Regions from separate parts of the Homo sapiens genome. Here region 2 is linked to region 1. The links come from fine-mapping of genetic effects on gene expression. A gene starts in region 1. The other region holds a variant in brackets. All regions are shown on one strand. Distances are between the middles of the regions. Region 1 holds the start of SCML1 (Scm polycomb group protein like 1). Region 2 has its middle 21 kb from the start of SCML1.

What was found. PIP is the estimated chance that this variant, and not a neighbour inherited with it, causes the effect.
Region 2: its variant is the best candidate, but not a certain one, in a credible set for the expression of SCML1 in whole blood (TOPMed, PIP 0.89).

What each region holds. Positions count from the first base shown.
Region 1 is chrX:17,735,184-17,739,579 of GRCh38, reverse strand. It overlaps SCML1 (Scm polycomb group protein like 1), which reads right to left and starts at 2,087. Exons shown (of 8, transcript NM_001037540.3): 1 at 1,900-2,087. It overlaps NHS (NHS actin remodeling regulator), which reads right to left. Exons shown (of 9, transcript NM_001291867.2): 9 at 3,586-4,396.
Region 2 is chrX:17,756,487-17,760,882 of GRCh38, reverse strand. No RefSeq gene overlaps it. Among named protein-coding and RNA genes, the nearest start is that of SCML1, 21 kb to the right of the region's middle. The variant CTTAA/A (reference allele first, on the strand shown) is at 2,444.

The DNA of each region.
Region 1 (4,396 bases):
ACCGCGCCTGGCCAATTCTTGATAACACCATAAATTTAAGTTCCTTTTCACTTTTTCCCACAAGATAAATTACAGCTTTACAACATTTTCTCAGAGCCCAACCATGACTAGATTCTACAAAATTAATTTCACTTTTAAACCTCAAATTCCACAAAAATGAGTTTAAAGGAAACTCATTTATATTTACCCCGGAAATCTAAACTCTTGATAATACCACACATTTTAGTTTCTTCTCACTTCTTCCCACAAGATAAATAATTTCAGCTTTACAACATTTTCTCAGAGCCCAACCATGACTACACTGTGCAAAATGAATTAATTTCACTTTTAAATCTCAAATCCCGTAAAAATGAGTTTACTTAAAATGAAACTCACTTGCATTTACCACAGAAATTTAAACTCTTAATTACACCATATACCTTAATTCCTTTTCACTTCTTTCCATAAGATAAATCACAACTTTACAACATTTTCTGAGCCCAACCATGACTAGATTGTGCGAAATTAATTAATTTCACTTTTAAATCTCAAATCCCATAAAAATGAGTTTACTTAAAATGAAACTCACTTGTATTTACCACAGAAATTTAAACTATTCATTACACCATACACTTTAGTTCCTTTTCACTTCGTCCCACAAGATTAATTACAGCTTTACAACATTTTCTCAGAGCCCAAGGCTAGATTGTGCAAAATTAATTAATTTCACTTTCAAATCTCAAATCTCGTAAAATGAGTTTACTTAAAATGAAACTCACTTATATTTACCACAGAAATCTAAACTCTTGATAACATAAGAACAAGAGGCCGTCTGATTTTCTAAAAGACTTTTTTTAGACATTAAAGACATTTTCAAAAGTCGTAAATATTCGCTCCGGAGGCGCAAGGCTTTCACCTGCCATTAATTCATCAGATAAGGCACAGCTCACAATGAGGCGCCACTCCCACCGGGACCACTTTGAGGAACACACAGCAAAACGCTCTGTTTGTTTTAAGAACAATCACTTTCTAAACCTTCCTGCGGGACTCTCAAAGGCAGCCCTTCCTTTGCCGCCAGAACCGCATCCCATCGCCCAGCACTTGCCGCAGGCCGGACAAGTGAGGCCCAAAAGGGCACCCAGCCCACGCCCCGCTTTAGAAAACACCGCGCGGCAAAGCTGCTTGGAAAATCGCTATCTTTTAGTCAACCTGAAGCCAGTTTGCCGCACTCGGGGAGAGCCGGGGAGAGGAGGGAGGGACGCGATCCGCCACCAACCAAATCAGGGCCTTTCCTGTTAACGACCACGCGGCAAGGGGGCCGGGCCCTCGCACGCCTCGACGGCCTCCCCCACTCCAAAGGGACTCCGATTTCGCAGGATCTCCCGCCTCCCGCCTCTGCTCCCAACACCCTACGTTTTTCTCTTCCTCCTCATTTACGTATTTACAATAAAACAGCGAAGCTGCACAGTCTGTCTCTAAATCAAACGCGGTTACCATCAAAGCCTCAGACTCTATGTCTCAACCGCAAAAGGTCTGACAGGAAATCAACTCGGGAGTTTGTCAATTCTTTAAACTCAAAGCTCTGTTAACGAAATCTGGATCCTTCCTCGCTCCCCACCTGCCTCCCCTGACAGGAGAATGACTGTAAAAGGATCCTGTCGTCCCCGAAAGTCAGCACCAAGCACTTCACAAATTGTCAAATCTCAAAAGCTTACACGCGCGGGCACTCCGGAAAGGCTGTGGGGACCACCCAAAGCACCCCCCTCCACACCGCGGCTGAAATTGGAGGCTGCGAAGTCAAGACTCGCTCTTCCCCGCAAAGCAAACCCTCTCTCCTCAGGAGAGCCCCGGCCCCTAAGCCAAATCGTGTATTCCCGTGACGGAAAGTTCAAGGTGAGGAAAAAGTACGACTGGACAGACCTATTTTAGTGACAGAGCCTGTCACGCCGGCCTCCGGAGGTCGCGGTAAAACTGCTCGCAGTAGTCCTGCCTCTCCGATGGGCGACAGCTGTGACCGTTAGGCCACTCGACGCTTCGGAAAGGTCCTGGCACCGGAAACCGGGCCTGGTCACGCGCACGCGAGACCAGTGATGCCCTGACCCCTGAGTGGATCAGAGAGCTCCCGCGACGCCGAATTCCCACACTCGCGGTTGGGGGGGGGGGGGGGGGGGGGGGGGGCGGGACTACCCGCTGACCAATCGGAGTCTGGCCACTGACAGGCGTCACCGTTGATCGGCCAATCCGCGGGTGCTCTCCCAGTCCTTGGGTGAGGGCGGGAATTTGCTAAGGAGATGGCTGTGGGGCGGGGCCGAGGGCGGGAATTTGCTGAGGAGATAGCTGTGGGGCGGGGCCGAGGGCGGGAATTTGCTGAGGAGATGGCTGTGGGGCGGGGCCTCTTACCTCAGGTTTTCCTTCGCAAGACCCGCAGGATTGAAAATGGACGTTAGGCCTTTCAGAGACTCGCGCGCTGAGTGGTTTCTGCGGCTGCGCAGGAGGCTGGCGCGCATGCGCAACCCTTCTAGTGGCGTTGTAGTTAGGGACGTGGTGTCCCCCCTTCGTTGTTGGGGTGTCCGAAGCTTTTTTTTTTTTTTAATGTGATCCCGCCCCTCCCCCGCGCTCTGTGACGCACCAGAGACGTCGTCGTAAACTGGGTTTCCTGGACGCACGCCAGTGATTGACTTGGAATGAGGAGAGGGGCGGGGCCTTAGCAGTTGCCCTGAGCCAGGTCTGGTAGGAAGGGCGAGGGGGGCCAGGGTGGGGGGCGGGCAAGATATTTCCAGTCTCCAGCACCCACAAGTTGGACTGGGGAACTAACGCAGACCTTGAAGGCAGATTTACTGGATTGGACCCCCAGCTCCAACACAGTCCTCCTATGGCCTTAGGCAAGCCAAGTAACCGCTTTGTGCTTCGGTTTCCCCATCTGTAAAATGGGTATAATATGGGGACTACATGAGTTAATGTATGCAAAGCACTTAGAACAGTACCTGGCATAGAATTTTGCTATTGTAATAAAGGCTATGTGACATCATCTAGTGGCATATAGTCTTACATACTTATATCGAGGCTGCTCATCTTGGGAAGGAGACACAGTCTGAGTAATTATCAGAAGCAAAGCAGGCAGATATTTCAAAGTAAAGCTATACATCTTTTCTTGGCCCAGAGAGGAGCTACAAAGAAAGTATACTGGACGTTGGAAATGTATCATTTTTCCTCTCAAATACGAAGCTAGATTAAAGCCCATTATAGATATAGTATATGTTTTTTTTTTGTTTTTGTTTTTGTTTGAGACGGAGTTTTGCTCTTGTTGCCCAGGCTGGAGTGTAGCGGTGTGATCTCGGCTCACTGCAACCTCTGCCTCCTGGGTTCAAGCGATTCTCCTGCCTCAGCCTCCAGAGTAGCTGGGATTACAGGCGTCTGCCACCATGCCCAGCTAATTTTTGTATTTTTAGTAGAGACGGGTTTCACCATGTTGGACAGGCTGGTCTATGTTCTTTTTGCTCCTACTTTTGCCATAACAGACCCTGCCCTTATGTCCTGTTGCCTGTAAAACACTGTTGCGAAGCCCCAAGAAATCAATTACGTAACAGTGAAGAGAGAAACCGGTTGTTTAATTGCAGTCACGTTTATTTGCAGTTTCTATACACACTTTCTAGGTAATCAAACTTTTCTGATACATTTTTTTTGAGAGGGGTTCACAATGAAACTGTCACCATTTTTACTAAAAATAAATACAAGACTTAAAGTGTTGCACAGCTCTAAAATATACAAAGGCTTGGATTGAATGTAAACGTTGAAAACATCTTACAAAAGAAACCATCTTTGCAGCAATTTAAAAAGTTCATATTTACAAATATTACAAAAATACAAAATGGATGCAAGTCCATAAACCATTGTCGTTTCGGCCAGCATGAACTGGTTCTAGTACCAAAATAGTTACACTGTAACCTTCTTCATAGTTTTAAATCTTTATTACCATCTAGTTCTCTACGTGCCACCACTGCAGCAAATGCACTCACTCACTGACCTTTGGCAAGAGCAAACAGCATGTTCTGTTTGCTACAACTAGTCCATGTCCTCTACTTAGCCAAAAACAAATCAAAACAACAACAAAACCAAAGTAGAATTTTTAAAAAATGAAAAAATTTCCCCTACACAACATAGATACGTTGTATAAACATAAAAGAACAAAAAATCGCATCAGTGCAAACAACAGAAGAAAAGTTCGGATTGATGTTCTTCACAATACCTAACGTGTGTACCCTGCTTCAAGACGGCAGTGATGTTAAAGACAGCCCTAAATCTTGGTCTTGTTTGCTATGTAATCAAGCCATGTAGAATATTCCAGATTATTAGGGAACTTCCTGCTTTTTCTTCTCAGTTTGTAACTCAATACTCTTTTCCACAGTGAATTTTAAAT
Region 2 (4,396 bases), 21 kb before region 1:
TGCCCTTCTAATTTTCAGGGGTACCCTGTGTTCTGGTCATTTTCATTTTCTGAAAGGTATTTAGTGAGAAGTCGAGAGTCAGTGACTCAATGGCTGCTAGTAAGATGTCATGTTAAACCAGTTTTTAATTCTCTTCAGAGCCACACTGTCTTCCAATAATTCCCTCTTTCTTCCTATAGTTTCAGTGCTTGACTGGCTGTATGTAAAACACAGAAGTGAAACCAACCAGAAAATAATCCAAAGGCCAAATGGCACCTTATGTCAGTCATTCACTGACACTTGTGGAATGGCTCTGTATGTGTTTGCTACTTAAAAATAGCCTCAATCTGATTCCCAGGATTACGATTCTATCAACAAGTAATTGATTCCTGATGGCCAGAATCAAAGCTGGTGAAACTCACTGCCCTCATGAAGAGTTCATTCTAGTGGGGAAAGACATCCAATATGCAAATAAATAAACAAGTGAATGAATGAATGAACCGTGGCAGGAAATGTATCAGTTACATCTCACCACATTTTTGAGCTGTGGTAATGAATCCCCAAATCCCGGTAAGTTACAACTGTAGACACTACTTCTTGCTCACATAATATGAAGGAGGCCACAGGATGACCTTGGCCCAGCCCCAGCAGGCCTTCTTGCTTGCTCCAGAACCCAGTCTGAAGGGGCAGCCCTGTCTGGCCAATGCTGTGCTCACAGCCAAGGGAGAAGCATGTGACAGATGATCTCTCCCATGGGAAGGCTTCTGCTTGATGTGGTGCTCTTCAGTTCACTTGTGTACCTCCTGAATGCCAAAGCAGGGTTCAGGGCCAAGTGCAACAATGGGCTGGGCAACAGAGTTTGCCTTCAGGGAGAAACTGCAAATTCCATGGCAATGGATGGGAAGAAATATTCTTTGCAGGGAAGAGTTGATTGCTGGGAACAATAATCTAAGCAGCCATAAGTTTAAGTGACATAAAGAGAATATATCAGGGAAGGAGGCTAAGGGGAGCCAGGTGTGTGAGTGTCCTGGGGTTAGAGGGGTGCCACAGAGAAACTGACAAACTTACAAGAGGGATGAACAGGTGATGTTCTGATGTTAGGAACGTGATGTATAGTGGAGACTGCTGGCTAGTTACCAAAGACCCATTTCCTCGTCTTCCTGGGTACACAGACTTTTCCTGGCCACTGTTACAGTGAGGTGTGGCCATGTGACTGAGGTCCAGCCCATGGAATGGGAACAGAAGTGATGTGTGCCCTGCCACCAGGAGTCCAAGGACCCCAAGGCCCTAGGGATGGTGGAGCCACAGACAGAAGGAGCCTGGGTCCCCAAATTACCATCCGGCAGAAGGACATCTACTTCGGATCATGAGCGAGTAAGCTGGAGTGCAATGGCGTGATCTCGGCTCACTACAACCTCCGCCTCCCGGGTTCAAGTGATTCTCCTGCCTCAGCCTCCCAAGTAGTTGGGACTAGAGGCGTGCTCCACCACTCCTGGCTAATTTTTGTATTTTTAGTAGACGAAGTTTCACTATGTTGTCCAGGCTGGTCTCGAACTCCTGACCTCAAGTGATCTGTCCATCTCGGCCTCCCAAAGTGCTGGGATCACAGGAATGAGCCACCGCGCCTGGCCAAAAACAGGGATTTTATGGACTTCGGAAACCCACAGGTAGTGACTTCATAGTGATGTTCATGGTGATGTTGACCTAGGTGGACTCTCCTGGGAGAGAGAGACTTCCCAACATGGAGAACGGTGTATATTGGCAAATATGAGTCATGAGGGGCTTCTTCAGGTGTATGGAAGAGGACGGTATATGGGGAAAAAGAATGAAAAAGGAACTGAATCCCTTTGTCTGAAAAGCAAACACAATTAGAGAGGTAATAACTGGAATAACCAACTGAGAGAGTGCTAACAACTTTGAAACCACCAGGCCTTGTACTTGGAGGAATTCCCCAGAATACCCTAGAGGTAGAGGCCCCTTTGGAGAGGGCAGAGTGTAGAGGAGTATGGGTGAAGGGATGAGGGTCTTCCCTTTCTGACCATCAATTCCTCCAGGAAAGCAGCATCAGATTCCACCAGACACTGATGAGTTTCAGAAATACCTGCCATTTCATTCAACAGAATGGCAGACCTGCCACCCTGCCATTTATCTGGATTTGTGTCTTCAAGTCTTCCTGTTTTCTACACGCCTCCCAATTATTTACTGACAAAGGAATGAGTTGATCCTTTGTCCTGTATTGTTTTTCATCTATTACTTCAAACTTGTTTCCTTTTCAACCACAACAGGAAGAACAGGTGCTTCTCAGTTGTAGGTGGCTTAGCTGTCTTTGGCTAATACTAAGAAACCTCAAGCAAGAAGTCTAAATATTAATCATTAATTTACTGAAATCCTCTGTGTTGTGAATGTTGCTCGACTTCAGACACCTCTGAAAAGTATAGAGAAATTTGTCTTCATGTTCTGCATA[CTTAA/A]ACTTTTTATTATGGAAAATTTCAAACATACATGATAGTAGAGAGATTTATATAATGGATTCCCATGTATGTATCACTGGCCACAACAAATACCAACATAAGGCCAACCCTGTTTCATCTGCATCTCCTTCCCTGTTGGATTATTTCAAAGTAATCCCAGATATCATCTCATTTAATCTGCAAAGTTTTAATAGGATACTTCCAAGAGATAGGGGCACCATCTTTTCAAAATATAATTATAATACCAATTAGCACCATTGTTAGAAATTAATAGCAACTCTTCAGTATCATCTAATATCTACTGGGTATTCACCTTTCCCTGGATTGTCTCATGTATTCGTTTTTCCTGTTGTTTTCTTTTAATCAGCATCTAAACGAGGTCTGTGCATTGCATTTGGGTGACATGCCTCTTAAGACTCTCTTAATCTATAATCATTCCAAGTTCCCCCTTTTTTCCTTGGCTGGATGCAAGGAAATCGTTAAATGCCTTGCTAAATATGATGGCTTCATCCTAGTACTAGTTAATACCTAAAGAAAAAATACACATTTGTGGTAAGGCTTTTTACTTAAGACAATGGATATAATTTCACATTTCAAAGTCTCCTTGGTAATTGTGAATTTGGGGCAGATCTGATTAGATTGCTTTTGTTTTAATTTGTATTAGTCTTCAATTCAATTAGTGCAATTTGTTTGCATTAAGCTTTTAAAACCGCCTGTTCAGCTTCTGAGAGCTAACATTTTATATGTCTTAAGCCACCCATCTTTTCACGTGTTAACATCTATGAAATCAGTTTGCATTTTATAATCAATGGTGAGTGATAGTTTAATGTGTAGCATTTTCTTTACTATTAAACAGTGGTGCATCTTACAATCAAAGAGGTCTTAGATTTGATGAAATATACTAGTTTACTTAAACTAGATAATATAAAGGGCCCTTTCTATGGAAGTTTTACTCTTCTTTCTGAACAGTGGGCCTGTACAAGACAGATATGCCGAAGAAGGTAAACAAGTCCAGGTCTGGTCAGGAACATAGGAGCCATTCTGAATCTTCAGAATGGAAATGGTTTAATACAGAATCAGAAGCTTATATGGCTCCTGGAAGGCAGGGACTAAGGCAGGGACTGAGGAAGTTTCTAGAAATCCAGGACTGCAAGAGTCACAGAGAAGCTCCCCTGCCCCCAGTGGTCTCAGCTGCCTGCACGACTGAAGTGGGTGAGTCTCAAGGTGATATCCAGAGGCTGCTGGCAAACCCCACATCTGCCTCCTGCTGATGCTCAAAAGCCTGTCCTGTGCAGCCACCAGAAGGAAGCGGCTTCTCCTCACCTCCCTCCTCCCCAAATCAGGGCACAGGGTCTCTTGGGGCAGAATCTAAGAATCCAGGTCTACTGGCAAAGGAGTGTGGCAAGTGTCGCGTCCAGGCTTTATGCCTCTAAGGACAGGGAGGAACCGAGAAGGGCTGGGATGGTGGCAAGTACCAACAATGTTCAGCCCTTTAGAACACATCAGTGACTCCGTACATTAACTGCAGAGAAGCTTAATCTTTTTCGTCTTACATGAATATAAAAGGAAGTTGTAAGATATGTGTCCTGCTCCCAATGGACTGATTTCTGCCCCCGTGGAATATGTGCACCCACCTCGCCCCTGACATCAGTGGACTTGGGCCTCCAAGGCTAGCCAAAGCCAGGTGGAAGAGTGAGGCCAAAGGAGGAACAGGGCTTGGCAAGGCCAAAACCCTGCCCTGGCCGCCCCGTTGTCCCTGAGGGATTATTTCCACAAATGCATGTGCTTAAGTGCTTCAGTTCTATGGCAGGAGAACAGGACACACCACTACTGATACATAAGGACACGTCACTTATGGGCACTTGGCACTGACTCATATGCTCTGTCATAAGTGCCCTGATGTTCTCCTTTTCATGAACGCTGGTTTGTCTGTTATGTTCTAGGCAGCT